Linked DNA regions of Homo sapiens: all the other regions are linked to region 1. The links come from fine-mapping of genetic effects on gene expression. A gene starts in region 1. Each other region holds a variant in brackets. All regions are shown on one strand. Distances are from middle to middle.

Region 1 (10,313 bases):
TGCAGACCAGCTGCTGATAATGTTGGGCTAAATTGGCAGTATCCAACCTTCTCTGTTCCTCCTGGGGACATGTAGTAAGGAAGGAGACCACTACTACTGCTGCCCTCCTACCCCCAAACTTGCCTAGTTCATAAGACAGGAGGAAAGAGAGAAAGCAAAAAGTTAGAAAGAAACAAAAGTAAGATAAATAGCCAGACAACCTTGGCACCACCACGTGGCCCTAGGAGTTAAAATAATAATAATAATAATAATAACATCAACCCCTGACCTAAACTACTTGTGTTATCTTTAAATTCCAGACATTGTATGAAAAAGCATTGCAAAACTTTCTGTTCTGTTAGCTGATCCATGTAGCCCCCAGTCACGTTTCCCACACTTGCTCGATTTATCACGACCCTTTCACATGGACCCCTTAAAGTTGTAAGCCTTTAAACAGGCCAAGAATTTCTTTTTCGGGGGGCTCCGCTCTTAAGCCACAAGTCTGCCAGTGCTTCCGGCCGAATAAACCTCTTTCTTCTTTAATCCGGTGTCTGAGGAGTTTTGTCTGCAGCTCGTCCTGCTACATTTCTTGGTTCCCTGACTGAGAAGCGAGGTGATTAAGGGACGTTCAAGCCAGCCCCTTAGGCAGCTTATGCCTGCCCTGTAGAGCATCCCTGTGGGGGGCTCCAGCCAGCTTGCGCGATGCAGATCCTGAGAGTGCTCCCGGGTAGGCATTTGCCCCCGTGGAATGCCTCGTCAGAGTGGTGCATGGCAAGCCCCCGTGGAGGATCAACGCAGTGGCTGAACACTGGGAAGGAACTAGCACTTTAAGTCTGGACATTTGAAACTTGGTAAGACTGGTCTTTGGAACTTGCACACTCCATTTGAGTGGAAGCGTGGCCTGATCACCCATGGCGTGCCTGTACCGGCACTTTGGTTTTTGTTTTTGACTTGACTTGAAATGCTTGATACTTTGGTTTTTGTTTTTGACTTGACTTGAATTACTTGATAAACAGGCGTGCCTTTATTGGCACTTTGGCTTTGGTTCTGATTTTGACTTGGCTTAAATTCCTTGACAAACAGGTGTGCCTTTAATGACACTTTGGTTTTAGTTTTGATTTTCCTTTAGTGTGAATTAGACGAGTGAGTAACCTTTTACCCTTTCCTTCTTGTAGTGTGAATGTTGTTTTGTCTCAAGAGAAAAATAGGTCAAACACAAAGTAAGCCCACTCCGCTAGAAACTGTGTTAAAAAAAAATTTCAAGAAGAAAAATAAAAGGAAAGTCATCTAATCATCAAAACTTACTCTATTAAAATGCATGTTACAGAACCTTAAGAAAGGTTTTGCAGGGGATTACAGAGGTTAAGCCCCCAGAGGTTAAGAACTCTATGTGAATTAGAATTGCCCTCTTTTGCTGGGCGCGGTGGCTCACGCCTATAATCCCAGCACTTTGGGAGGCCGAGGCGGGCAGATCACGAGGTCAGGAGATTGAGACCATCCTGACTAATAGGGTGAAACCCCATCTCTACTAAAAATACAAAAACAAAAAATTAGCCAGGCGTGCTGGCGGGCACCTGTAGTCCCAGCTACTCAAGAGGCTGAGGCAGGAGAATTGCATGAACCTGGCAGGCGGAGCTTGCAGTGAGTGGAGATTGTGCCACTGCACTCCAGCCTGGGCAACAGAGCGAGACTCCGTCTCAAAAAAAAGAAAAAAAAAAAAGAATTGCCCTCTTTTGGTGTTGGATGGCCCACCGAAGGAACTACAGACAGGGAACAATTGGCCATGTATTTAAGGTGGTGACAGGGGTTGGAGGACAGCCAGTGGACCTAGATCAATTCCTTTATATTGATTCATGGTTAAATATAATATAGACAAAAACCAGCATAAATTTAGCCCTGTTTAACAGCTTATTGCAAAAAAGCCAAAAGTGAAAGTAAGAACAGCTGCACCAGCAGACACAGAGTTGAAAAGGGGAGTCCCAGAAAGAGCAAGAGAAGCCAGTTTTGCAGGAGCCGCCAGAGATAACAGAAATTCTTTCTCCATATGGCCCAGCCTACCCCCCTTTACCGAGGCCAACAGCCCCCTGAGAAACGAGATTAAGGAGCTAACATGCCCCAGGTCTCACCTTGAAGGGGAAGATCGGAGCCTCAAGAGGCCAAGGAAGGAAGTCAAGATAGTCAAGTGGGCCCTCTCAGATCTGGTCTTGCTGGAGCTATGCAAATGCCTCTCAGGGAGACACGAGGACCTGTCTATTATAATGACCAAGCCCACATCCAGGGGGTGGGGCAACAGACTTTCATCTATCAGCCCTTTTTAACCATTGATCTACTAAACTGGAAACACCCTGAACCCGCCACCTTGTTCCCAGCAGCTAGAGCCCTGTCGAGCATTAACTGTGTAGAGGTGTTGGACTCAAGTTTACTCTAGCAGACCTGACCTCCGAGACCAGCCTTGGGCATCAGTAGACTGGGAGCTATACATGGACGGGAGCAGCTTCATCAACCCACAAGGAGAGAGATGTGCAGGATATGCAGTGATAACCCTGGACACTGTCGTTAAGCTGAGCTCATTGCTTTAATTCAGGCCTTAGAACTCAGTGAAGGTAAGACTAAACATTTACACTGACTCTCAGTATGCCTGTTTAACCCTCCAACTGCATGGAGAATTATATTTAAAAAAGGGCCTGTTAAGATCTAGGAAAAAGGGGAAAAAAGACCCAGAGAATGCAACTCAGCTTCAGCATTTGCAGCAGTACTAAGAGGCACTTCTGCAGAGGCTAAGAGGTAGTAGAAAAAAAGCAATTAATATAAAAAAGATTTCAGAAGTGCTTCAAGGAGCTGACAAGAGCCTAAGTCAGTTTTATAAGAGACTCTGTAAAGCATTCTGGCTTTACATCCTATTTAACCCTGAGGCTGGTGGCTCACGCCTATAATCCCAGCCCTTTGGAAGGCCGAGGTGGGCAGATCAAGAGGTCAGGAGATCGAGACCATCCTGGCTAACATGGTGAAACCCTGTCTCTACTAAAAAAAAAAAAACACAAAAAAATTAGCTGGGCGTGGTGGCGGGTAGCTGTAGTCCCAGCTACTCGGGAGGCTGAGGCAGGAGAATTGTGTGAACCTGGGAGGTGGAGTTTGCAGTGAGCCGAGATCACACCACTGCACTCCAGCCTTGGCAACAGAGCGAGACTCCATCTCAAAAAAAAAAAAAAAATCAGCATATATATATATTCGAAAAAATATATATAAATATATATATACAAATATATGTAAATATATAGAAATATATACACGTAAATATATATATTTACATATATATGTAAAAAAATATATGTAAATATATATATAAATATATATATAGTGAATACTTCGTTTGTAAAGCAAGCCCAGGGTAACATCAAGCAGAAGCTACAGGCATGAATATCACCCAGTCTATAAAAGTGGCCACCAAGGCGTATGTTAGCTGTGACCAAGGAACAAAACAGGAAAGAGCAAAAGCAACAAGTGCGGCAGCTAGGCACGCCAAGGGTTAAATTCCTCTCCCCGGCTCAGCTCTATCTAGAAAAAAAGAGGAGGCTAGAGACCGGTGCCAAGAGAAGAGCAAAACAAAAAGAAAGACTCACAGTAAGTGTAAAAAAGAGAATCAGAAGAAAATGGGAGAGACAGCAGTGCGCGGGGGCAGGGCCTGTGCCACTGCCTGGCCCCGCCAGGTGGCCATAGAAGCAGGAGAACTCAGGAAGGAAAAAGAAAAACAAAGACTTAAGGAAAAAGGCCAATCTGTTAGCAACAGCTCTTATAAAAAGAGAGATTAGCAATGCGAGAGGACGTGGACACGGATGTAGACGTGGAAGAAGTCAAGTTAGGCAAGGATTCGAGAGCCGGCCAAGGCTAGAGAGACATTAATGTGTGAGATGAAAAAAGAAAGGACACTAGAAGGGTGAATGTTCAGAAGGCAATAAAAGAAATGGCCAAGGCTGCAAGACAAAGAGGCCATTGGCCAAGGGCTGCCGCACCTTGGAGGAACCAAATACTGATCTGATCAGGCTGGCAGGAGCTAAAGAATGTAAAGACTAGGGCAGACTAGGCACCTTCTTATTAGGCTCCCAGGAGCCCATTGTCACATTAGAAGTTAAAAGCAGCAGGATTCTGCCATATCTGGATTCCAATTTCTCACTGATGGCTAAGCCACTAGATAGAGTTACAAAGGGGGGAAAGAAAAAGAACCCCTCCTCTAAGAAACTTAAACAGGAAAAAGAGCCATACCTTGTGAAAACTTGCTTATAGACTTTACAGAACTGCCTCATGCTGGAGGCTATCGGTACATGCTAGTGCTTGTTTGCACCTTTCCAGGGTAAGTTAAAGTTTTCCCCACCAGGACAGAAAAAGTACAAGAAGTGACTAAAGTATTGTTAAAAGACATTATCCCCAGGTTTAGACTGCCTCTAACTTTAAAGTCAGACAATAGGCCAGCATTTGTAGCTGAAATAGGGCAGGATTTAACAAGACTGTTAAAAATAAAATGGAAGTTACACACAGCCTATTGGCTGCAAAGTTCAAGAAAAAGTGGAGTGCATGAACTGGACACTCGAGCAGCTACTGAAAAAAATATTGCCAGGAAATTCATTTAAGATAAAATCAGGCTTTTGCCTATGGTCCTCCTTCAAGTCAGCTGCACCCTCACCAAACAAACTAGGTATTTACCCTATAAGATTTTGTTCGGTCGGCCACCCCCAAATCACAGGTCAAATTAAAGGTGACCTCCAAGAACTAAAGGAATTAACCTTAAGAAAGCAAATGCAGATTTTAGAAATAGCCATACAAAGTGTTTATAATTAAATACATAAAAATGCCTATAAGCCTGACACCCCTTTAAATCTAGTGACTCTGTTTAAGTTAAAAAGTAAAATCTAATTTTTCTAGGACCCATATAGGATGGGCCTTATACTGTAATCTTTTCCACTCCCACTGCTGTTAAAAGTTGCAGGTGTTGTGTCTTAGATCCATCACAGTCAGCTAACACTGGCAGCTCAGGACAAGTAGACCAGCCAGCAGGACACAGATCTTCCTACCCGGCTGATTCGGAGACGAGACCAAGCTGTTGCTGAGGACGACAGCCCTGCTCTGGTCACTCCGGAGGCTGACCAGTCTACACACGGCTGAAGCTTGAAGAAACAACAAGCCCGGCTCTAGTCACGCACTGGCAGCTGAATAGTCTACGCATGGCCGAAGCTTGAGGACTTGTCAAGCAAGTAAACGTAGTTAAAAATCTTAAGACTAATAGTTTTCCTGTAATACTGTTTTCCTATTGTTCTGTCACTGTATTCAATCTTTTTCCCAGGTAAGGACCTCTTTTGTCCTTGCTGGATACAAATATGCTGTATATTGTTTTGTTATTGTTACCCCCCATAACCATGCTAGAAGAAACACCTATATAAGGTGTCCCCATTGTACACATACTACTTAGTCAGGAAACCCAGACCCGTCCAGCCCAGCAACAATTCCGAGTCTTTAAGTCATTCTTTAAACACATAAACCAGAAGTTACAAGAGCCTCCTCCTTTAGCAAAACAAACAAACAACCTATTTGCTCAGCTGGCTGAAAACATTGCCAGCAGCCTAGACGTTTCTTCATGTTATGTTTATAAAAAGGCTAACATGAGAGACCAATGGCCTTGAGAAGCAAAAGATTTAATGCCTCAAGATTACTTTAACTCTTTCCCCAAGCAGATGCCAAGTTCAAGCATTTGGCTCTTAAAAACTCCTATTATTAAGAAATACTGTGTTGCTTGCTAGGAAAAAAGCTTTTAAGACCCAGTAAAAAAACTAACCTGCTTAGGACATGACAAAGTTGGCACATGTGCCTGTACTGGTTTAACACAGGTTTGATCCTAGGTCTTTATTTAAAAGATAGTTTCCAGCTATAAGAGAATTTAAAACCCTCACTGCAAGTGTATTACATAAAACACTATCACTCTGTCTCCCAAAGAGACTCAAAGTAAAAATAAAAGCGAGAACTCCCACTAATTTGTGAAAATTCTCAAAGGAAGGGATAAGGAGACCACTACTACTCCTGCTGCCCTCCTCCCTGCCACCTTGCCTAGTTCATAAGACAGGAGGAAAAGAGAGAAAGCAAAAAGTTAGAAAGAAACAAAAGTCAGATAAATAGCCAGACAACCTTGGCACCACCACGTGGCCCTAGGAGTTAAAAAAAATAATAATAATAACATCAACCCCCGACCTAAACTACTTGTGTTATCTGTAAATTCCAGACATTGTATGAAAAAAGCATTGCAAAACTTTCTGTTCTGTTAGCTGATTCATGTAGCCCCCAGTCACGTTTCCCATGCTTGCTCAATTTATCACGACCCTTTCACGTGGACCCTTAAAGTCGTAAGCCTTTAAACAGGCCAAGAATTTCTTTTTTGGGGAGCTCAGCTCTTAAGACGCAAGTCTGCCGATGCTCCCGGCCGAATAAACCTCTTTCTTCTTTAATCCGGTGTCTGAGGAGTTTTGTCTGTGGCTTGTCCTGCTACAGTAGGTGACAGATGACTTTCATCCCTCATGGGACAACGTTACATCATTCTTATGAAACAGCCATGGCTGCACTCAGACTTAGGAAGGCACTGGCTGTAATGCCAGCACTAAAAGCAAACCAGAACCCAAGTGGAGAAAAGTTAGCTTTCATAAGAGGACTCATCTTTTACGTTCACAAACTTAGGCTCCCTGACTTTTATCGGTAATCAGTACTGAGGACAATGCGTTCCACACCCGCTGGCTGGCTGATGTTTGATTCTGTAACTATACCACGCCCAGAATTCTCTCAAAAGGGAATAAAACACAGGTCAAATTCCTCACCCACACACTCCACAGTTCAACCCCTGCCAGGGAAACCAAAAGCAGGAAAGGATCTCCAGCGGCGCCATTCTCATTTCCGGTCCCAGCACCCCGCCTCCATGACGTCAACGCGCCGCGCCACCGGGCTGCGTCATCTCGGCGCGCCGCTGCCAGGGCTGTACACCTGCTGGCTGCCATGGCTGAGGTGGGCCGTACCGGGATCAGCTACCCAGGCGCGCTTCTCCCACAGGGCTTCTGGGCTGCGGTCGAAGTGTGGCTGGAGAGGCCGCAGGTGGCAAACAAACGGCTTTGCGGCGCCCGCCTGGAGGCCCGCTGGAGCGCCGCCCTGCCCTGCGCGGAGGCCCGCGGCCCCGGGACTAGCGCAGGCTCGGAGCAGAAGGAGCGGGGTCCGGGACCCGGCCAGGGTTCCCCCGGAGGGGGCCCGGGTCCCAGGTCGCTATCAGGACCCGAGCAGGGCACGGCATGTTGCGAACTTGAGGAGGCCCAGGGCCAGTGCCAGCAAGAGGAGGCACAGAGGGAAGCCGCCTCAGTGCCCCTGAGGGACTCCGGGCACCCCGGCCATGCTGAAGGAAGGGAGGGCGACTTCCCCGCCGCAGATCTGGATTCGCTTTGGGAGGATTTCTCCCAAAGTCTCGCCCGTGGCAATTCGGAGTTGCTGGCCTTCCTCACCAGCTCCGGGGCGGGATCGCAGCCAGAGGCGCAGCGTGAGCTCGACGTGGTTCTCAGAACCGTCATCCCGAAAACTAGCCCACATTGCCCCCTTACAACTCCCAGGAGGGAAATAGTCGTGCAAGGTAAGAGTGTTTTGATAGTGGACGGATATGATTAGATAAAAAAGCATTCATAGAACCTCGGGTCAATGAAAAAGTCCTAAGGGTACTAGTTCCTCTGCGATGTCCTAGGGAGGTTGTTAGGTGTTTCATAGTTTTTTGAGTGGGCGCATAGAAATGTGTGTCCTTAGTACAGAAGATGGGATAATTGATTGGGGTGGTGTCTGGAAGGCTTCAAAGAGACAGTGAAGGACTAGCTGGATATTGCGTAATACCTAGGAGTTTAGCAGGTAAAGCTGTAGGTGTAAAAGTGTTGGGGACCAGCCTCAACACCACCCGTAGGGTACTCAAAGTCCGGTGGCGACGAAGGAATGAGACGAGACAGGTTAAGAGTGCATAAAGATTGGGGGCCAGGGGGCCAATTGCAAAATGGAGGCTGCCAAAGCCTGGGAGCTCTGGTCTCCACACTATTGAGTACAATCACTTAGATCTAAGAAGCGGACGTTCGGGGCGAAAGGGTGAAAGGGAGACAGTGCATCATACATGTCATCTATAGCAGTGGCGGTTTAAATGAATCTCCTTTGTGCTCAAACAGCGTTATCTTTAACTTGTCGGAGAATAACCAGTGGGAGCGTGCTTAACTAGGAGCCTGCATGTCTGACCACATTGTAGTGATTCAAAGGAGTGTCTTTCTCCTTGAACACAGTGTTTATAGGTAAGACAGTAGGTCTCGCCCAGAGCATGGGAACATCATGACAATAAGAAGGCTTTCCTCCTCAGAGGCCTCTTGTGGCTTTCCACAACTTATTGTCTCATATTTTTATGGCCAGTTTATACAGGCATGCCATAAGCCTTTTCCCCAACATAAAGAGAGCTATTTATGCTGAGACAAATAACTGTGAAAGAGCATAGAGACTGGATGGATGGGAACCTACTAGTCCTCAGCGTTCGTTAAATCTCTGGCATTTATTTTTACTGCCCGTGACCTTGACACTTCAGCCTCAGCCACTCTTACCTGAAACTTTATTCAGCAGCATGTGTTTCGTATTGCCACTGTAACAAATTACTGCAAATTCATTGGTCAGTACAAAAAATTGATTGTCTCAGTTCTGTAGGTTAGGAATCCCCATTGGCTCTGCTGGTTTCTCCGCTGTGGGTCTCTCTCACGAGGCCAAAATCAAACAGCCTGCCGGCTGGGCTCTTATTTGGAGGTTCTGGGAAGGAATCTGTTCTCAGGCTCATTCAGTTCGTTGGTAGAATCCAATTTTTTATGTAGGACTGGGGTCCTTGTTCCCTTGCTGGCTGTCAGTTGCTGGAGGCTTCTTTCTGGTTCTTTCATGCAGCTTCCTACATCTCAGAGCCAGCAATGGGGTTGAATTCTTCTCATACTTGGAATCTCTCTGCCTTCCTCTCCTGCTGCTTCTCTCCTCCGCCTCCAGCCAGAGAAAATTCTCTGCTCTTCGTGGCCCATGGAGTTAGGCCGGGCTCACCTGGATAATCCAGAGTACTCTTCCTCTTGAGGTCTGTAACCATAATCATGTTTGCAAGTGCCCCTTTTGCCATATAATACAGTATATTCACGAGTCCTGGGTATTACGGCATGGACACTTTTGGGAGGCTCTTCTGCCTACCTCAGGCAGCAATTGCTGGGAGGTACATAGTCCCCTCTGATGGCTCCCAATACTGTCTGCCTCTGTGCCTTTGTAAGACTCTAGGTGTCCTCTCCTCCAGGGGGCCTCTCTGCCAGTCCAGTCTAGTTTAGGAGTTCTTCCAGCTCTTATCAACTGTGTTCTAATCTTAACCATTTTACGTTGTCCATCCACTGGACTGAGGATTGGAGAGGCAGTGCCCGTGAGGCCTTCATGTGTAGACTTCGCTGAACAGAGGGGTAGGACAGAATTTTTTCCTTTCTTCCTCTCAGGGAGGCAGTTTTCCCTCTCAACAAGGAGTACGTTTTCAGGATTGCTTTCTATATTCAGTTCCCGCCAGGAAGGCTCACCAGAGGACTTGTATCCTCCATGGAATATAGACAGCCTGGCTTTGAATTTTGGTCTTGCCAATTACAAGCTGTATGGCTGTGGGCAGGTTATAGAGCCTCTCTGTGCCTCAGTGTCTTCATTTGTAAAATAGGATAATAATAAAATATCTTGGAGTTGCTGGAAGAGTTAAATGGAATTAATACATTGTAAAGTGCTTAGAATAGTTCCTGGCACATGGTAAGTGCCTAATAAATGCTAGCTGCTGTTTGTGTGAAGTGGAGATGCTCTTGCAACTTTTGTATATTTCTTGGCCCTATTCTGGGTAAGATCACGAAGGTCTTAAGAGTAATGTGACTGTTCGAGACCAGCCTGGCCAACATGGTGAAACCCCGTCTCTACTAAAAATACAAAAAATTAGCCAGGCGTAGTGGCAGGTGCCTGTAATCCCAGCTACTCAGGAGACTGAGGCAGAAGAATGACGTGAACCCGGTGAGTGGAGGTTGCAGTGAACCAAGATTGTGCCACTGCATTCCAGCCTGGGCAGCAGACGGGGACTCAGTCTAAAAAAAAAAAAAAGGAATGTGACTAAGAAATCTTAACTGTTAGTAGCAGGTGACAGGATGACATAGTGGTTAAGAACTTGACTTCTTTAGTTAAAGAACAGAATTCAGTTTGAGGCTATGTGGATTTGAGACAGATTACTTAATCTGTTGAACGCCTGGTTTTCTCATCTA
Region 2 (10,522 bases), 87 kb before region 1:
TTAGAGTTTCAAGGTCACGTCAGGCAAGTGTGGAGCCCAGGTGGGGGCTGGAGTTTGTGGAAACCAGCCTGGTCTTGGAGCACATCAGGGAAAGGAAATCACTGCCCGGCGGCCGGCCCGGGGGCGCTTCTCCAGCCTGGCTTCAGGAAGACCGTGAGCAAACACAGACCAGACGGGGCTGAGGCCAGCAGCTGGGCAGGGAGCCACGCTGGCCTCATGCTGTCCCCACAAAGGGCTCCTGTCCCCTGGGCTGGGGATGGTGTCACAGCTTCCTGAGCAGTGTCGTCTCGGCTCCCGGAACTCCTGGTAGGTGGGCCAGGCCTGGGGTGGGATGCCTGGGCTGGGGGTAGGGGAGCAGCATCCCCAGAGCTGTTATCCTCTTCATCATTGTGGCTGCAGAGAGGGGAACTGAGGCAGGGCCTAAAACCGAGGTCACTACAGAGATGCCACCAGAACCGCAAGCCTCTGCCTTTCTGCCCCGTGCACTTTCTGTGATGGTTAGGGTTAGGGTTAGGGTTAGGGTTCATGTTAGGGTTAGGGTAGGCTTACCTCACTGCAGAGCCAGAGAACACACCCCCGTAGGGGAGCTGAGGGAGGTCTGAGCCTCCAGCTGCTGCCTGTTTCTCCATGGGTCCTGGTGAGGGTGGACCACCCCAAGCCTACCTTGAATCTGTTCCTTGACATGCTCCTTAGATTGAGTCTTTAAAACCCTGCCTGTCCCAAGTACTCAGAATCAGAAAGAATCACCCAACTGTGTTCTGTGGCACCAGGTATCAATTCCCTGTGTACCTCCATGGACTCAGCGCCATCTCAGAAGTGAGGGCGGAGGGAAGGAACCTTCTAGAAGGAGGAGTTTGCTGCAGAACATCCAGAGCCCACAGCACTGAGTCGTCTCCATGCCCCTTGCCTGTGGTTCTCTGTAGCACATGGCAGGGGGGTGGGTGGTGCAGCACCTCCTTCTGATGCGTTGAGTGTCAGCACTGCAAGGTCCCCTACCCCATGCCCAGTGCCCAGTGCCCAGTCCCGTGGGAGCTCCTCATTTGGGGCAGAGACCAGGGCAGAGGCAGCGAGGGCTCCTCTCCTCCCTCACTCAGGGGCTACAGGCTGGTCACTTGAGCTCTCTGGAAATCAGTCTCCTCATCTGGAAAACGGGGCTCATCCTGACCTTGTGATGGGCATGAGGTGATGGTATCAGATAATGTGCGCGAACGACCCTGTAAATCATAAATTGGTTGCAGTTTCTCTCCAGCGACACCCTAGTACACTTTGGAGCCTGGTGAACTTGAGTTTGCATGCCAGCTCCTGACCTCCTATGGCCCACGTCCTCACTGGAGGATGGGCTCTGGAGGCTGGAGGGCTGGTGGAAGAGGAAGTGAGATGGCAGTTCGCTGGCTTCTGCATCAGGCCCCAACTGTACCCTGGGCCTCCCAGGCTTGCACGTGCCTCCTCACAGCTTCCCTTGAACATCCTGTATCATCCAGCAGCCCTAAACCGTGTGATTTTTTCCTCTGGGAGGTGACAGCCTGGACCAGAAGTTGAAACCTGGCCCCAGGGTATGGTGTGCCCCACTGTCAGAGGGACCTCAGATGAGCCACTAAGCCTCTCTCTGCCTCAGTTTCCTTATCTAAAATGGGTGGAATCAGCTGGGCGCCGTGGCTCATGCCTGTAATCCCAGCACTTTGGGAGGGCGAGGCGGGTGGATCATTTGAGGTCAGGAGTTCAAGACCAGCCTGGCCAACATGGTGAAACCCCATCTCTACTAAAAAAATACAAAAATTGGCTGGGTATGGTGGCGGGTGCCTATAATCCCAGCTACTCGGGAGGCTGAGGCAGGAGAAATCACTTGAGCCTGGGAGGCAGAGGTTGTGGTGAGCTGAGCTCGTGCCACTGTACTCCAGCCTGGGTGACAGAGCGAGACCCTGTCTGTAAAATAAAATAAATAAAATAAAATAAAATAAAATAAAATAAAATAAAATAAAATAGGTGGAATCATCTGGTCCCTGGCTGGGCTCACAAAAATCCCACAGGGAATGAATGATTATCAGTCTACTGGGGCTGCCATAGTGGGGTTCCACAGACTGGGGGCTGGAACAACAGACATTTATTTTCTCACAGCTCAGGGGGCTGAGAGTCTGAGACCAAGGTGTCGACAGGATTGGTTTCTCCTGAGGCCTCTCTCCTCGGCCTGCAGATGCCACCTTCCCTCCGTGTCCTCACCTGGTCATCCCTCTGTGACTGTCTGTGTCCTCATCTCTTATAAGGATACCAGTCAGACTGGATTAGAGCCCACTCTGATGACCTCACTTTACCTTAATCACTTTTTTTTTTTTGACACAGAGTTTTGCTTTTGTCACCCAGGCTGGAGTGCAATGGCGCGATCTCAGCTCACAGCAACCTCTGCCTCCTGGGTTCAAGTGATTTGTCTGCCTCAGCCTCCCGAGTAGCTGGGATTACAAGCATGTGCCACCGTGCCAGGCTAATTTTGTATTTTTAGTAGAGATGGGGTTTATCCATGTTGGTCAGGCTGGTCACAAACTCCCTACCTCAGGTGATCCACCCACCTTGGCCTCCCAAAGTGCTGGGATGACAGGCGTGAGCCACCGCGCCCGGCCTAATCACCTCTTAAAAAGCCCTGTCTTGGCCAGGCGTGGTGGCTCACGCCTATAATCCCAGCACTTTGGGAGGTAGAGGTGGGCGGATCACGAGGTCAGGAGATAGAGACCATCCTGGCTAACATGGTGAAACCCTGTCCCTACTAAAAATACAAAAAAAATAGCGAGGCGTGGTGGCACACACCTATAGTTCCAGCTACTCGGGAGGCTGAGGTAGGAGAATCCCTTGAACCTAGGAGGCAGAGGTTGCAGTGAGCCAAGATCGCACCACTGCACTCCTGGAGGTTAGGGCTTCAACATACAAATTGTAGGGGGATGCAACTGAACCTGTAACACCTTGTGTGGTCATCACTCCAGGGAAGGATGTAAAGAGCTAGGACTCCCACAGCATTGTGTTTGCAAAGGAAGACCCGGGACCTTCAAGGTCTTTGTTGCTGACCTCCTCTCCCTCAGGAAAGGCAGAGGGTCATCTCCTCCCTGGAGTGGCTTCTCCCATGCTGACCTCACTTCTGGGAGGGGCCAGGAGGAACCTGCCTGCGTTTCTGAAGCCCAGCTCTAGCACATTTCACCCAGAGGCCAGGATCCCATGCAGAATGCCAGAGGCTGAGGGCAGCGGGCCGACCTCCCTTGGCAGTTTCAGAGTCTTTCTTCAGTGCTCTGTTATTTTATACAGGATTCCTATATGCGAAAAGAAATGCATACCTTACAAAATTCCTCAGTTACTGTAATTGGCAAGTAAGGATCTCTGGAAAGAGCATTTGCTCATTTAATAGGACTGGAAGGGAGCCGCAGCTTTTTAAATTTTTTTTCCTGGTGATGGTTTTTAAAGAATTTAAAATGCAATGATATTGCAAGGAAGAGTGGACTTTTCCCTGGTTGGCAGACTCCATCTAGCCATGGCATACTGCAGCAAGATTTCTGCGGCTGCCCACACGTCCTGCCTGGTGTAGAGGTGGTTCCGTCCAAGCTCCTCGGCTCACCACTGACCTCAGCTGAGCCCCTCACGCGCGGGTCCTACGAGAGGCACAGCAAGGAGACACCCGTCCCTGGTCAGGGGAACAGAGGGGAGCCGGCCCCTCATGCACAGCCCATAGTTGGGGGACAGCAGAGCCCATGTCTCCTGTGGGGAGGGCAGAGACCCACACTGGTTGGAGTGGCGAGGCCATGCCTGGAAGTCCGGCACTGGCGCACTGGCCAGCATGGCCCCCTTCCTGCTTCACCATCTAGACCTGCCCAATTCATTCCTTTAATTCATTAACTCACTTCTTCATTCACTCACTTCACTTGTTCATCATTCCCCCATTCCACTCCAGGGCTTGCTGAGTGCTTTCCCAGTGTTTGTGTGCGGCCCTGTGCTGGGAGCTGGAGACAGGGACCCTCCAGACCTGGGTCCTGGGCTCCACGAGCTTCCAGGCCGCTGAGAGGAGTGGCCAGGCCCAGTCAGTGCTGTCCTGAGGGCTGGGGCTGCTGCAGCCAATGGTGACAGAGGCCCACCAAGTGATTCCTTCTGGAGAACAGGCCATGGCTGGGTCGGAAGGTGACAGGCTCCTGTGACCCTGACGCCAGGGGAAACTCGAGTCTTGCCGCCTATACTATGTTCACATCCACACAGAGGCTGCTGGTCAGGGACGTGGGGAAGGGTGGGGAGGGCACAGAGGGGGAGCGCCTCCCAGCCGTCCTGGGTTGGGAAGGGCTAGATGGCCAGGTGTGTAGGGGTGGTGCTCACACAGATACAAAGGCCAGGCTCCGCAGGGGCCAGGCCTTCTGTGCAGGACTGGGATGCGCAGACAAGGGTCCGCCCAGAGCTCACACTGTGGCTACCCTAGATCCTGAGAAAGCCCCACACTGAGGAGGGAGAACCGGAAGCCGAGAGCAGAGCCGGCCTGGGCACACACGGGCAAGGACACAGAGAACACAGGGCGGGACTGTTGTCCTCACCTCAGCAGCTTCACCAGCGCACGGATGGCCCCTCCCCTGCCCCCAGGGACACTGACCACCCCCCTTTCCTCCTCAGAATTCAGGCCCAGTGAATAGGCAGAGGTCCTGAGACTGTGGCCATCAGAAATGTCTAAGGGTACAAGAAGGAGTACAGTTTCCTGGGCCCAGCTCCTAGGGTCCAGTCTAGCCACAGCCCCTCTGTGTGCTCAGGACTGTTAGAGACTTTCACATATATTATCTCAGCCTATGCTTAGGACTCTGGAAGGCAGGTAGTTCTACAACCTTTACATAGGAGGAAACCAATTTGGAAAGGTTAAGAAACATTCCCAATGTGCCACTTCACAGCAAATGACAAAGTTAAGATTTGAACCTGGGCCTAACTCCCAAGCCTGTCTGCTTTATACGCTCCTGTGCCATGTCCCGAAGGCTGGCAGAAAAGACATCGACCAGGGTCTTTAAGGATGATGACGTAGGAAAATCTTCCTAAAAAATTATTTTGTTTTTAGAAGCCTTGCTCTGAAGCAAAGAAAAAAACAATTCAAGAGATGTCAAGAATTTTTGGCAAACAAATAATGCATCGAAGAACAAACACCCAGGGAGGACGCGTGGGCAGCTGTTCTTGGGTTGTTTTCATTCCCCAAGTGCTCGGCCCTGTAAGACTAGATGTGTATTTTCTCTTGCAAAGCAAACAGTTCAGCACAATGTGGGCCTCCTTGCTTGAAAGAATTCAGATGGAGCTTGTGAACCACATAAAAGGTTGAGCAAACCTTGTTCCAAACTCAGTGCAGTGGCTGGGCACAGAGCCGCCCGGGACTGAGCAAACCTCCTCGTCTATCTCCTAGGCAAGGGTGTACATGGAGGGGGTGAATGGAGGAAGGTCCTTCCACAAGTCACTGCACATTTTCCCTTCACAACACAACACGGGGCTCCCACTGACCACTGCAGAGCTGGGGACATCCTCCTCCAAGCTTCACAAAGCAAACCAAGTCCCTTCCTGGGCGGCTGCTGGACAGCCTGGTGGGATGGAAATGAGCTGAGGTCAGTCCCTGCACTTGAATGGGTGCAGGTGGGTGGGGCCTTCCTGGAAGCCACAGGAACACCGGTTTCTGGGTTCTCATGCAGAGTGGCCCTGACTTCCCAGATTTAGGATCAAAGCCCAGAGCCCAAGGGAAACCCTCTGATGTAAGCTGCATGACAGCAAGTGGCCCCAGAGGGGAATGCAAAGGCGAGAGTGCCGGGGACCAC[G/A]GCACAGCACATGCGGCACAGGCCCGCCCAGGCCAGAGACTGAGCGCATCTTCCCCTCCTCACATGGAGAGTAGAGGCTCCGGCAGGGCCACAGCCCCCCAGCTGGGTTCTTCTGCACGTGCCTGTGGGGCCAAGCAGTCCCCACCGTGGCCAATGCTGGGGCTCCGTGCAAGAAGTCTGTCGCACCCTGCCCAGCTGCCTCGAGCAATTAGGAGGCGGCTCCCACACCAGGAAGGCCACCTCCAAGGTTCCTAGGTCTGGTCCAGAGAGACAGGATGCTCACAGGCAGGCAGCAAGTCCAAACAGAAGCCTGGGCTCCACTCGAGCCATGGCCCCAGGGCTCAGGAGAGCCACCCAGGGTGGACGGAGTCGCATCTGTGCATGCCCACCTTGCACTGCAGAGGGACCCAAAAGTGCTCTGCCCTGGTTTTTATACCCTGGGCACCACTGGGCTCACCGAGCAGACGTGTTGCAGAGTATCCTATCTGGGAGGACCAAGGCCACACCCTGGGCTGTTCGGGTCATTTCCTCCTTTTTCCAGGGTGTTGCATTCGGTCAGTTCTGCAGGAGAACTGCAAGCCAGAGAGGGAAGAGTTGTCGTCCATCCAGGGCCCTGTCCTCCTGCAGTCACGGCCTGTAGTTGTGCTTCCACTGTGGTCCGTGATTCCCATGGCATGCCCCACTCCATAGGGTGGCTTTGGTCTCATCGTGGTGGCACCATGGCTGAGGCCACCTGAAGCTCCTAAGTGTCCAGGGCAATGTCCCCCGGAAGTGAGAGGCCACTTCTGTCCCAACGTCCCCAGCCAGTCTTTAAGACTCAACAGGACCCTTGGACTTTGCCTCATCACTGAGCCAGTCCTTGGGGCCAAGGGAATGGAAGGTGCTAGGGCACTTCAGCTAAGGCGAACCAGTGCCAGTGCTGGGGCAGGGCAGCTTCCCAAGGCTTGGGGCTGTCCACATCTGGGGAGAAATCTGGACAGAACTGGGGTTCTGTTAGTGAGGAGGAAGGGTTGGAAGTTGGACAGGAAGCCCACAGGGTCCACCACACAAGGAGAGAAGCCAAGACCCCCTGACTTCCAGGGGACCCATGGCTGGGGCATGCTTCAGATGGGGACACGGCCCCATGGGACCCATGAAAAGCCTGTGAAGTGTCTTAGTAAAAGGCCCACATGAACAAAGTCAAGGAGGAAGGCAGTTTCTGGTGACGAGGAGGTGGTCCTATGGCACATGCTGTCCCCACACAGTGCTACGTGTAGCTAGGTGTTCACTAAATGCTGGTCAGATGGACACTCCCTGCTGGCCGGCAGCCCAGGGGCTGGAACCACCTAAAACCTGGAGGGTGGGGTGGATACACAATGATGGGGGAACGTGATTCACGCTTGGGCTGAGCCGTCAGAAGTGCATCCAAACCAAGTTTCCAAGAGGCTGCTCCATGTCAACTACACATCCTAAAATGAAAGAGTTCCCACGCCTCCGCCACCATCAAGATCCTTAGCAGTGACAGCCGCAAAGACCTCAACCCCAAGATATTTCTGGGCTTTCACAGATGATGGGGTCTGGCTGATTTTTATCTTCTTCATCCGCCTGTGGTTTTGAGATGTCTCTGCAGGCATGCATCCCAGCTGGCCCCGTGTAGCCGCAGGAAGCTCCCTCTGTGTTTAAGCTCACAGTGAGAAACTTCTCTCATTCTGCAGGCATCTCCCTTGGTGAGTCACAGAGATTTCTGGCCACGGGCACAACCATGGGCACACACTTGTGTCCACTGCCAAGCAAGACTGTCTTTCCAGTCCACCGTCCACATGGCATCAAACTAATACGAAGGCTGAAGGCATTCCCATAATGGCAGACACCAAGCAATGGTTCCCCAGCATGGTGTGAAAGATTGATCCCGCAGGGCCAGCAGATGTCATTAGACAGGAAAGTTAAATGACGGGTAAAAGTTTTGGAAGGTGTATTAGTCCGTTCTCACGCTACTATAAAGAACTGCCCAAGACTGGGTAGTTTATAAAGGAAAGAGGTTTAATTGACTCACAGTTTAGCATGGCTGGGGAGGCCTCAGGAAACTTACAGTCATGGCGGAAGGGGAAGGAAACACGTCCGTTTTCACATGACGGCAGGAAGGAGAAGTGCCAATTAAAAGGAGGAATGCCCCTTATAAAACCATCAGATCTCATGAGAACTCACTCACCATCACAAGAACAGCATGGAGGTAACTACCCCGTGATTCAATTACCTCCCACCAGGTCCCTTCCATGACTCGTGGGGATTATGGGAACTACAGTTCAAGATGAGATTTGGGTGGGGACACAGCCAAACTATATCAGAAGGGTAAGGGTAAACCATCACTATTTGCCAATGATAGAGAAGGAAAACCAAAGAGAATCAATGAAAAACTGTCATAATTAAAATAAGGTTTCAATAAGGTGACCAAAATAAACATACAAAAATCACACAGCTTTTTATTACAAACAGCTTGAAGAAATAGTCTTAGATGGGAAGACCACTTACCATGAAGACAAAGATTCTCCTGATGTGAATCTAAAAGTTAAACAAAACCTCCAGACAAACTCCAGAGAGCATTCTTTAATATGGGGGTGGGAGAATGCCCAGACTTGACAAATAACACCAAAGTTCACATACATAAGACATTTTTGGAAAAGATGAGAAACGAGGCTTTATTTGCTCCAACAGATATTAAAAGTATGAGAACCACAACCATGAAAACAACAGAAGCTGATGTGAGAAACAACACTAAAATTAAACAGTGCAGACACAGGTCCAGCGACAATGATTTTAGCACTCATACAGGTGGCATTTCGGTCAGTGCATGATGATTCAGTGGGCAAAGCATTTCAGATCCTTGTCTCATATCACACCTCGAAATACATTCCTGGTCAATTAAACACTGAAACGTACTCAGAGAAAAAGAGATGAAAGTGTAAATAATCTTTGTGTGAGAAAGGACTTTCCAAGCATGACCTCAAAGGCTAGAGCATAAGAGTCTTCGTTTTAAAATGTGCAGGCATTTCTGATTTAAAAATGTAAACTATAGCAGGTTACATCAAAAAGGAAAAAAATACAGTTAAATGGCAAATGATGCATGAGGAATAATGATTTACAGTGAATATGTTACAGGTTTGCTGTGCTTAATATGTACAAATATCTTACAAGCCAACAAAATATTTTCAAAACTAAATGCCTTCTTAGATAGAGAACAAGAATGGGCAGTTATCACAGCAGAACATATATGAACAGACTTCAAGCACGGGGGAAGGTATGTTCAGCCACAGTAGGGGCAATAAGAAGGAAATCTATACAGAAGACACCAATTTTATGTTCTCATCAGGTCGGCAACAGGCAGAGAACAAACAGGCCACTGCTGGCAAGACTCCTACATTCTAGAGGGAATGAGGGCTTCCTGTTGAACATGCTGGGAAGAGGAGACTTACCATGTGCTGTCTGCAGGCCGGGCTTTGTTGCTTTCATGCATTAACCCGTTTTAACGCCAACAACAGCAGGATGAGGAAGATTCTCTTATTCATTTCATCAGTGAGGGAAGTCCCACATCCAATAGACAGTGTAGCTGGTGTCCATCCAGGAGCCTGCCCTAGACTCTGCTCCCTCATCCCCACTTGTGGCTCTACCTGCCCCACTGCCTCCCACACTGCTGGTATAAGAAATCTCCCCTGTGCAGAGCATGTCTCAGCAAGCCACTGGGACCAACTCACGCACAGTGATGCATGTGCACGGATGGCTGCCACGGAGCAGAAGCCTTGATCTCTCCATCTCTCAGGAGGAAGTTTGCTAAACTTGTACATTCATGTTACTTGACTGGGAAAATGGCTGTGCCATCACTTTAAGTGGAAAAAGATGTCCACAGAGTATGACCCATTTCTGAAAGGAAAACCACACACACGTACACAGAGGAAGAAAGTGTGCAGAATGGTGTACGCTAACATGATCCCGGCAGGTGAGAGGAAGAAAGTGTGCAGAATGGGGAACACTAACCTGTTCCTGGCAGGTGAGGGGAAGCAAGTATGCAGAACTGTGCACGCTAACATGATCCCAGCAGGCGAGAGGAAGAAAGTGTGCAGAATGGTGCACGCCAACATGATCCCAGCAGGTGACAGGAAGAAAGTGAGCAGAATGGTGCATGCTAAGATGATCCCAGCAGGTGAGAGGAAGAAAGTGTGCAGAACGGTGCACACTAACATGATCCCAGCAGGGGAGAGGAAGAAAGTGTGCAGAACAGTGCACACTAACATGATCCCAGCAGGCGAGAAGAAGAAGGTGAAGTGAGCAGAATGGTGCATGCTAAGATGACCCTGGCAGATGAGGGGAAGGAAGTGTGCAGAATGGTGCATGCTAACGTGATCCCGGCAGGTGAGAGGAAGAAAGTGTGGAGAACGGTGCACGCTTACATGATCCTGGCAGGTGAGAGGAAGAAAGTGAGCAGAATGGTGCATGCTAAGATGATCCCGGCAGGTGAGGGGAAGAAAGTGAGCAGAACGGTGCATGCTAACATGAAGCCAGCAGGTGAGGGAAAGGAGAACAGTGCACACTAACACGTTCCCAGCAGCTGAGAGAAAAGTGGACACCAGGGCCAGGAGACGGGGGCCCTCGAGGGGAATGCAGGGAGGACTCTGGGGCAGGGGCAAATCACTGTCAATGTTCAGCTTCAGTGCTGGGTGCAGGAACACTGGCATGAACCAAGGAGTACAATGAAT
Region 3 (10,522 bases), 63 kb after region 1:
CAGAGCAAGGTTGAGGGAAAAAAAAAAAAAGAGAAAGACCAATTCCTTTACTGTTACTCCTTTCCTTAGTCTCTTAAGCATGATTATGTTTTACAAATGTCTCTATTTAGCCAGTTCTTGTTTTTCGTTTGATGCAGCTGCAAGTCCACAAGCTATGCACTATATGATTAACTGCTTTTGTTTTGCTTTTGTAAGCCAGCTTATAAAAACCCTGCTCTGGGCCGGGCACGGTGGCTCACGCCTGTAATCCTGGCACTTTGGGAGGCCGAGGCGGGTGGATCACAAGGTCAGGAGATCGAGACCATCCTAGCTAACACAGTGAGACCCCATCTCTACTAAAAATACAAAAAATTAGCTGGGTGTGGTGGCAGGCGCCTGTAGTCCCAGCTACTCAGGAGGCTGAGGCAGGAGAATTGCATGAACCCAGGAAGCGGAGCTTGCAGTGAGCTGAGATCGCGCCACTGCACTCCAGCCTGGGCGACACAGTGAGACTCCATCTCAAAAACAAACAAACAAACAAAAAAACCCTGCTCTGTCTTTGTTCAAGGCTCAGCTTTTTAGATGTGAGTCCACTGAGCTGGTGTGTACCTTAAAATAAACAATCCTCCTGTTCTCCATATCAGTCTCTTTAGTCTCTCTAGTTCTCTATTTCCCACAACATTTCAGATGCCACTCAGGTGAGAGGCAGTGAGGATTTTCCCCTCAGGGTTCTGCCCTTTGCCCACCTGAGCTACCTGCACAGCATGGTGTATGGGAGCTGTGCCACTGGGGCTGGCGTGGGGGGGGCTGGGAAAATCCCAGGGGCAGGGAGCAGGAGCTGTGCCCTCTGCTGGGCTGAGAGCATGGCCTTGCTCAGCTATGCTTCTCACTGTCCCTCCCCAGCCTCTGTGGACTCCCACCCACTCCAGTGCAAATCAGGACTCAGTGGAAGACGTCAGGAGAGTGGACATGCAGGTTTTAGAGATCCTCCCTTTGTGGGTTCCCCTTCTCCGGGGTTTTCTCCTCAATTTTCAGTAGTTTGGGCAGCTGTGAACTCCATCCCCTGACTCCTCAGGGTATGAAGATGATGACATTTTGCTTGATTTGCACCCTGTGCACTGCAGGGTCTGGCAGTTTCTTCCAGAAAGCCGAGTAAATGCAGATTCTACCTCGTGCACCTCCCTTCTTGTAGGGGTGTTCTCCTGTATTCGTCTGTTCTCAAATCACTATAAAGAAATACCCAAGACTGGGTAATTTACAAAGAAAAGAGGTTTAATTGGCTCACAGTTCTGCAGGCTGTCTAGGGAGCATGATGCTGGCATCTGCTCAGCTTCTGGGGAGGCCTCAGGAGACTTACAATCATGGCGGAAGGCAAAGGGAAAGCAGGCATGTCTCCATATGGCCAGTGCAGGAGGAAGAGAGAGAGGGGCAGCGATTTTCTTTCTCAGTGTTATGGAAAGGATGATGCCTCCTGCTGTTTACTTAGATTTGATAAAATGCGGTGTCTCCCCCTGCCAGGGTGCTGAAGGAGGGTCCCATGCTGAGACAGCCACACCTACCCAATATCCACGCCTCCCCTCATTCCCAGCTGCCTGTGTTAGCTTGGGCCACAGGTCTGGCTGATGGTCTGTGAGTAGAAGCGATGCCACTGTGCCCTGTCTGGAGATGCCAGGGGCGATGTGTTCTGGGTGGGGAGTCAGCAGATACAGGGGCAGGGGGCATGGGAGTGAACCCCACCTTTACAGTTAGAGCCACGGGGCCCTCTATATTTGTCGGGGACTGGTGGTCCCTGCGTGGTCCAGTTGCCCAGAGGAGGTACCCTTGAGCTGGAGCTTGAGAGGTAAGGGGGTCCCTCGTGGGAGGTGAGTTTGTCTTTTCCCCTCTCTGTGGTTCTGTGGCTCCAGGTGCAGCAGGGGCAGATACAGCTGCAGCAGGGGCAGCTGCAGCAGTGGCCTTCAGCCCAGGAGGAGGGGCTGGAGATTCAGTTCCCCAGGAGCTTCAGAGTGTGGCCATCAAGGAGGCCTGGGTTAGAGGTGGCCTCCTGAGATGTGGCTCTGGGTTCTAGGGTCCTGGGGCTCTGGGGTGAGCTGTGAACTCCCATCCGGCACAGGAGACTTGCCCCAACACTGTGCTGAGACACTTGCCCCATCTTCAGCCTGGGCCCCCTGCCCTGGGCCGTGTCTCTAAAGGTGACCCCAGCCCCTGAGCTGAGGTGTTGTACAAGAAAATGCAATGCTGCCAAACCGCAGCCTGCCTGGCCAAACCCTTTCCAGGAATTGTCCTCCTGCACCTGCCATACATTTCTCCATCCACGGAGCCTCAGGCCTTTGCCTTCCCTCTTCTTCAACCCTCCAATTTTGGTTTCGTCTCTATTCTCCCTTTAGAATTGAGTGTGGGGGTGGGCAGGGGTGAGGTCGTGTGTGTTGGGGCGTGTGGGGTGGGGAGGGAGGGGAGTGTCCTGAGGGTCGATTTAGTGTGTCCTGAGGGTCGATTTAGTGTCATGCCTCTTTCACCACCACCACCAAAGATGAAACCAACAATAAACTAAATACCGTGTGTTCTCATCTATAAGTGGGAACTAAATAATGAGAACAGTGGGCAGAAAGAGGGGGATCACAGACATGGGGACCTACTTGAGGGAGGAGGTTGGGAGGAGGGACGGGTTCAGAAGAAAACACAAAACTGTCAGATGCTACACTGAGTACCCGGGTGATGAAACAATCTGCACCCTGAACTCCTGAGTCAGGAGTTTACTATATAACAAACCTGCACATGTACCCTTGAACAAGAAATAAAAGCCAAAATAGAGAGAGAGCTCTCAGCCTATGGGCGCAGTGGCTCATGCCTGTAATCCCATCACTTCGGGAGGCCAAGGCAGGACGATTGCTTGAGTTCAGAAGTTCAAATCCAGCCTGGGCAACATAGCAAGACCCTGTTTCTATGAAAAAAATTAAAAATTAGCTGGGAGTGGTGGCATGTGCCTGTAGTCCTAGCTACTCTGGAGGCTGAGGCAGGGAGGACTGCTTGAGCCTAGGAGTTCCAGCCTGGGCAATGAAGTGAGACTCTGTCTCTAAAAAAATAAAAACAGCTGGGTGCGGTGGCTCATGCCTATAATCCCTGCACTTCAGGAGGCTGAGGCGGGTGGATCACCTGAGGTCAGGAGTTCGAGACCAGCCTGGCCAATATCGTGTAACCCTATCTCTACTAAAAATGCAAAAATTAGCTGGGCTTAGTGACGTGCACCCATAATCGCAGCTACTCAGGAGGCTGAGGCATAAGAGAGAATCGGTTGAACCTGGGAGGCAGAGGTTGCTGTGAGCCAAGATAATGCCACTGCACTCCAGCCTGGGCAACAGAGCGAGACTCCCTCTGGAAAAAATAAATAAATAAATAAAATAAAATAAATTAAAAGCCCTAGTCCCCTTAGTCTTAGCTGAGACTCAGCTCAGTGTGTCCTGGAACCTCTTCCCCACTCCAGGGGTCTGAATGAAGCCAGTCTTGCCACCTTTCACAAGTGTCTGGCAGGCACTGTTTACTTTTTTTTTTTTTTTGAGGCAGAGTCTCACTCTGTTGCCCAGCCTGGAGTGCAGTGGCGTTGACCTTGATTCACTACAACTTCCACCTCCTGGGTTCAAGCAATCCTTGTGCCTCAGCCTCCCGAGTAGCTGGGATTACAGGTGTGCACCAACATGCCCAGCTAAATTATTTTGTATTTTTAGTAGAGACGGAGGTTTCACCATGTTGACCAGGCTGTTCTTGAACTCCTGGCCTGAAGGGATCTGCCCTCCTTGGCCTCCCAAGGTGCTGGGAAGACAGGTGTGTTTCCTGTGATGCTGGGACCCCCACCCTGTGCTGTAGCACCCATAGATAGAACCACTTCCTCAGTGTGGGGGTGAGAACGCTTGGGAAGCACTGTATGAGGGAGCTCTGCCCTGGGCCAGAAACCCGGATGCAGCCCTGCCAGGCCCCCAGCTGTGGGGCAGGTGGTCGTGCCACTGCTCAGTGGATCCAATTGAGTGCCTACTGCATGGCCGGCAATTCCATGTGCTGGGGATAGAGTGACAGCAGAGGTGATGGCTTGTGCATGTGCAGGGCGGGAGGTGGCCTGTGGTGGAGCTGGCAGGTGGCCTGAGGGGACCCCTGGTCCATCGGGGGATGTGGGGCAGGAGAGACCCCACCCCCAGTTGGCCCCTGCAGTTCGAAGTCTGAGAGATGGTATGTAGGCTGCTGCTATTAATAGCAGCATGAGCTCTGGGACCGGATGTCCTGGGTTCAAATTCCAGCTCTGCCTCAAAAACTTGCAACCTTGGGGAAGTCACTCAACTTCCTGTGCCTCAGTTTCCTCCTGGGAAAAATGGGGATGAGGATAATCTTGGCAGAGGATTGTTGAGAAGGTTGAGTACATTTGGAGCCTAACAGCTTTAGCGGGCACTTGGCCACTGTGAGAACTCAGTGAGGGTTAGCGATTTCACACAAGGGCCTTCTCACCAGGCTCCGGCAGACGGGACATTCCTTTGCTATTTGAGATGTTTTTGGACTCTTCCTCTCCCTCTTTGCCCCTTTCCCTTTTCCTTTCCCCTTCTTCCCTTCTTTCTTCTTATGGGGAGCTAGCTGGGAGGTGCTCAGTTGGGGCCCTCAGTGACTGGAGTCTCAAGGGCTCTGCTGCCATCGGCTGTGAGCTCAGCAGCCCCTGTCCTTTCTGGGCCCCAGCCTCTCCATCCAAAAACCAGAAGGCTGCCTGGAAGGTTCCAGAAGTTGCTCTTGGTCCTGACCCCTGCCCACATCTCTCTGTTGAGAAGACTGGTGCCACTCTGGGGACAGCTGGCTTCCCGCCTCTTCCCGGGTCCCTGGGGAAGTAACTCCTCTCCCAGGAGGAGACAGACAACTGGTCCTCTGAGCAGCAGCTGAATTTTACAGAAGGGCTATTGATTGTTTTGTTCAAAGAGGGAGAATAAATTTGGTTCTGTGAGTCATAACGTGACATTCTCCAAAATGGTTCTGACCCATAAAACGGGGGCTCCTGTTGATATCAGCCCTGAAGGTTAATGGGTGTGTTTTCAGAATACTCTGCCAGGAATGACTCCAGAAACTGCCCTGAGTGCATCCATGGGAATGGTCCTCGGGACAGGCAGCCGCCATGAAATAGACACCCTGCCCTGCCTTCTTCCTGTTGGTGTTTGTTGACCACATCTGCAATCCTCTGATGAAGCAGGGGGTCAGGTGGAGGGAGAGGAAGCTTCTGAATATTTCTAATCTTCAGCTGCTTAAAAAACTACAACGAACTTAGTGGTTTCAAGGACACATATTTAGCTCATGGTGCAGTGGGTCTGAAGTGTGAGTGCAGCTTAGCAAGGTTCCCTGCTCACGGTCACATCAGGCTGCAATCACGGTACCAGCCAGGGCGTTGGTCTCAGCCGAGGCTCAGCTGGGGCAGGCTCTGCATCCACACTCACCAGGATGTTGGCAGTATTCGATTCCTTGCTGGCTGTTGGCCAGAGACTTGTTGTGCCTCAGTTTCCTCTTTGGCAAAGTGGGGTTGATTTTTCCTGGCCACAGGCCCTCTCCCAGGGCCAGCTCACACACAGCAGCACAACCAGTTATGATCTTATGCAAGGCTGTCAAGGAAGCAGTGCCATTGCCTTGGTGGATGCTATTGGTGAGACGCAGGTCCCAGGTCCCAGCTCCCAGATCCCGCTTACACTCAGGGGAGATTAATCAAAGGTGTCAGTGCCAGGAGGTGGGGAACATGGGCCACTACAGGGTCTGCCCACCACTCTCTGGATTGGCCCAAGACCACTTCTTCTTCACCCTTGAACACACAACAGACACAGGCACACACAGACTCAGCACAGGCTTGAATACCATCGGGATGAGGTAATGTCATGGGTTGAGGGGGCGTTCCCCACCCCTCACCTCCCACATGAGAGGCAGAGGCCAAGGTTTGGTTTCTGGCTGTGACCCTGGGCTGCTTTCCCACTGGGTCTCTGCTTCATTATCTGTAGAGGGAGGACTTGGACTTGGCAGGGGTTCCTGGACAATTCTCAGCCAAAGAAACCCGACCCCTTCCCCAGGCTGCAGGAGCCGCATTTAGGGGTGTTCTCCCGCTCTGCACACACACCCTTGAGGGTCTACTCCATTCACCTTGCAAGGCAAGCTGTCCCCTACAGCCCCGGAAAGGGTGGCACTCTATCCCAGCAGACCCTAGGCCGTGGCTGCAGCAGTCGGACCGGCTCAAGCATCTGCCCCGGGGAAGCAGCCTAAAGCAAGAGAATCACCCACATGGGAATCCGGACCCAGGTGTGGAGGACACTGGGCTGACAGTGTGCACAGGGCCATGCACCCACCAGCAAGGGACACAGCACTCGGTCCCAGAGGTGGCCTCTGTTGTGGCCCCAGCCTGCAGAATGATCTCAGGCAGCCACCCGGATGGAGGGTTTGGTGGAACTCCTGGGCCACATACCTCAGAGAACACAGCAAAGAGTCAGCACCCAGTAAGGTGCAGAGAACTTTCCACCCCGATGCCCACACAGGGTTCCTGCCATCAACGGGAGTCAGGTGGTCACAGGGCTTCTCTTGGGAACAGAATTCCCGTCCAGAAGCTTCCTCTTCT[C/G]TTGCTTTGGCCTGGGCCCTGGCTCCCAGTTCTGTCCTATGTCCCCGCATCTCTGGCTGTTCTTCAGTGCCCTGGTTGCTTCCCCTTCACCCTCCTAAATGTTGGAGTTCCGGAAGGCTCTGAGCCCCTCTTGTTCTTATCCTCCTGGCTAGCTTCGTCTCCAGCAAGCCCTCACACGCACCTCGGTGCCAAGGCTTGCAAACCTCAGCCTGTCCTGGCCTCGCTCCCAAGCTATGGGACAGAGCGTCTCCCCCGAGGCTCCCGAGCCTGTGGTGCCCTCTGCAGTCCCCGCACCCGTCCACACCTGCTCTCTCCTGCTCCCCCTCCAGCCTCTGAGCCTCTGAGGTTGGTGGGCATCTTGGTGGTGGCTGCTGGGAGGGTCTCAGGGCGGGGCAGGGGCTGCATCAGGGGTCTGCACTGCATGGAATGGACATGGCATGGTGTAAGCCCCTCAGCCTGAGATTCAGCACCATTTCCATGCTGCTCATGTCCCCACCTCCTCGGCTTTCCCCATGGCCCACCTAAGTCTCCTGCGCTCCTGCAGGGCTGAGCAATGGCCCCCATTCACTAAGGCAGGGAATCCCCTCTGCCCGTGCCTGCTCCCTTCCCCGCCAGGTACCCGCGCCAGCTTTACTGCCTTCCCTCTTCCTCCCGGGCCTGCGCTGCTGCCCTCCTCCCCTGGAGCTGTGCCAGCTCCAGCTTTTCAGCCAGCAGCTCCTGCCCCGCCCCACTCATTGTGTCCAGACCTGGGCTCCATGCTGACCCCCAGCGTGTACGGAGCTCCTGCCATTCCTTGGGTGTGGACCTGTGCCGAGTCTGTAGTGTGCACAGGTCCTGCCAATCCTTGGGTGTGGACCTGCGCCAAGTCTGTATCCACCTTCAATAGCTCATCTCTTCCACCCGGGAGGAAGTTCCCTTCATCCTCCCTGTGGGGAAGAGGGCACTGAAGCTTGGCAGAGCTCTTCCTGGGGTCTCAAGGGTCTGCTCCAAACCCTTGCTCTTGCCCCTGTCACAACCCAGGCACCCTGGCTGCACCTGCAAACTGCACTCCATGGTGGCAGCCCTGCCCTGCCAGTGCCAGCCCCGTCTGCCTCACCACCCCAGTCCCTGAGCTCCCTGGGGCTGAACGCCACTTCTCTGGATTCTAAATAGGCCCCCGCAGGGTACCTGTTGCTGTATCTACCACTTCCCCCAGCCTCCTGGTCTGGGTCCTGCTGATTCTGGTCATTACTCACCTTCTGCTCTACCCACCCTCCCCTGCATGCTGCCCCCAGCCGCAGAGGAATGCCCCCTCCATGTCCCACTCCCTCCACCAACAACAGCTGATCTGTCCTTTCTCCTGGCTGCGTGACCTCTCAGGAAGAGGCGGTGCTACACTGAGGGCCCTGGCAGCCTCTCTAGGTCCCTGTCCCTCACCTTTCAAAGGAGAGATAGGACAGAGGTGGCAGAAACTGGCTGGAGCAGGCTTCTGTCCGGGTGCTGCTCCGGCTGTGACTCCTCACCCCTCAGAGCTGCATCTTCCATCTGCGAACAGGAGGCTGCAGCCCCTGAGGAGGTGGCATCTCTGCCTGTGGGAAGTCAGGTGCACTGAGGCCAGATGCAGGGAGGGTGCTCCAGGCTCAAGGGTGCAGGAGGAGCCTCCTGCCCTGGGAGGCCAGCACTCAGCCCCAGCTCTGCCACCTTGACCTCCCAGCACCTCTGCAGCCCGGGCATCCTAGTCTGCAAGACGTGGTAGGGTGGATGGAGATCCCCAGGGTTCCTCCGTGGCCCTGGACAGGCAGCCGGTGTGGGGGGCATGAGTCACGCCCTGTGGGGGAAGGGGAGCAGCAAATGTGCCTGCCCTCCGCTGCACTAGCTGCACTGTTTCATGCCCATGCAACCCTAAGAGATGGGAGTCCTCACTGTCACCCTCTCATTCAGATGAGGAAGCAGAGACAGAGAGGCTGAGACACTTGCTCAAGGCCACTGATATGGTTGGGCTCTGTGTCCCCACCCAAATGTCATCTTGAATTGTAATCTGCAGGTGTTGAGGGAAGAACCTGGTGGGAGGTGATTGGATCACAGGGGCGGTTTCCCCCATGCTGTTCTGGTGATAGTGAGGGAGTTCTCATGAGGTTTGATGGTTTTGTAAGGGGCTCTTCCTCCTTCTTGCACTTCTGTCTCCTGCCACCATGTGAGATGTGCCTGCTTCCCCTTCCACCATGATTGTAAGTTTCCTGAGGACTCCCCAACCATGTGGAACTGTGAGTCAAGTAAACATCTTTGCTTTATAAATTATCCAGCCTTGGGTATTTCTTCACAGCAGTGTGAAAATGGACGAATACACACAGCAAATCACAGCACCATAGTTGGGGACGAGGGCTGTGTGGCCCTGAGTATGTGCTCCTGATGAGGACATGGGACACCAGCTAGAGAAGGGGCACTCCCTGCTCTCATGGGGACATTCACAAGGAGACCTGGTGCTCAGTGCAATGTCTGGGGACCTCCTTGAGACCAGGGCACGTGGGTGTCACAAGCTGCTGAGGGGCTGTGCCCTGCTGACACTGCTGAGGGCGCTTGGAGTGCAGAAATATTTTCAACAGAAGTGGAGCAGAAGGGATTTCTCCTAAACCCTCTGTTACCCAGAAAACGGCATGGACTGGAATTCCGCATTTCTTTAACAGTCTGTTTAGCCAGATCCTGACTCCACCAAAAACAAAGAAGCCCTCAGCCGCCTGCTGGGGTGGGAGGTAGTGACTGTCCTTCCAGCCCGGGCACCACTCCATGCTCATTGCTGATTTGGCCTCACTTAACCTTTGGTGCTGGGCTCTGCCGCATTCCAGGGTCCCTGTGTGACCTGGGCAGCCCCTTCCCCCCTCAGCCTGGGGTCCTCTCGGGCTGGGAGGTGATGGCTCTGCCCCAGGGGGAGCGGGCCAAGTGCTACGTGTGCACTTCTCTGTGGAATTCTCACCTCCTGGGCCAGCCCCTGGGCGGAAGGAGGCTGCTGGCCCCGCGTGGCCTGCCCTGTTGGAGGCTCCGCCAGAGCCCACGTCTGCAGTGCTTGGAGCCATTTCTTGGCACAAATATAAAAACAACTCCAGCTCTGCCGTGCTCCAAGTGAGAAATGCTGCTTGGTGAGCTGGGCTGGCTGGGCTGCTGGCCCTCGGTCAGCCGCCTGCAACAGGCAGGGCCACGGGAACCTCATCAGCAGAGCTTCCTGGAGGCAGCGTGGGTGGAATTGTGGAATTGTCATCAGACAGGCCTGGGATGGAGCTTCCCCACTGGAACGCAGCTGGCTGTGGACAGGGAGTCAGCTGCTGCCTGAAGGGACAAGGAGGCCTGCGACCACAGCAGGTTCCCACCTGGCCTGGGCCTGGAGGCCAGCAGGCACCTTTCAGGGCTTCCCAGCTCAGCCCCCACAGCTGGATGGAGCTGTGTTCCCTGCAGAAGTGTGGCCGGCTCCGAGCAGGCACAGGGGGCTCTTTCCCTCCACCTCAGCCCTGGCCTATGTGGGCACAGCAGAGGACGTGCTCACACCATGGGGGCCCCCGACCAGGCGAGGCCAGGGCGTGTCCACATTGGGGAAGTGAACGAAGAAGGACAAGTCTATTTGAGGGGCTGGCTGATAGTTTAGAAGCCCAGAATCGCCTGGCAGTGAATTATTCTGCTGAGTAACACTGTACCCAGAGGGATGTGGCTGAAAACCCCGGGAGGGAAGGCTGCGTGCGGGAAGCACTCCCATCCTCCCCCAGCGCCTGCTCTGGGCGTTCCGGAGCTCAGCGTGCATCCTTGCCTGTGGGTTCTGGGACCATCCTGCCATCTCCCTCCCCTTTCTTTCCCCTTTCCCCTCCTTTCCTTTCTCCTCTTTCTCCTTCTTTCTGTTTTCTTCTTTCCTGGCTGAAGCCAGAATTCATTTCTGTTACTTGCATCCAAAAAGTGTTCAAACAAGCATGC

What was found.
Region 2: its variant is fine-mapped to the expression of ACOX3 in blood mononuclear cells (TOPMed, PIP 0.98).
Region 3: its variant is fine-mapped to the expression of ACOX3 in whole blood (TOPMed, PIP above 0.99). The same link has a PIP of 0.9 or more in testis.

What each region holds. Positions count from the first base shown.
Region 1 is chr4:8,433,818-8,444,130 of GRCh38, forward strand. ACOX3 (acyl-CoA oxidase 3, pristanoyl) reads right to left here and starts at 6,906. Exons shown (of 18, transcript NM_003501.3): 1 at 6,831-6,906. It overlaps TRMT44 (tRNA methyltransferase 44 homolog), which reads left to right and starts at 6,960. Exons shown (of 11, transcript NM_152544.3): 1 at 6,960-7,624. The coding sequence starts at 7,006. RefSeq lists enhancers at 1,670-2,009, 2,310-2,489, 6,794-7,033, 6,852-7,585 and silencers at 7,054-7,263, 7,314-7,373.
Region 2 is chr4:8,346,862-8,357,383 of GRCh38, forward strand. It overlaps a transcript of ACOX3 not described here. Among named protein-coding and RNA genes, the nearest start is that of LINC02517, 32 kb to the left of the region's middle. RefSeq lists an enhancer at 6,428-6,978. The variant G/A (reference allele first, on the strand shown) is at 5,796.
Region 3 is chr4:8,497,145-8,507,666 of GRCh38, forward strand. It overlaps a transcript of TRMT44 not described here. Among named protein-coding and RNA genes, the nearest start is that of TRMT44, 62 kb to the left of the region's middle. RefSeq lists enhancers at 1,507-2,007, 7,038-7,925. The variant C/G (reference allele first, on the strand shown) is at 6,590.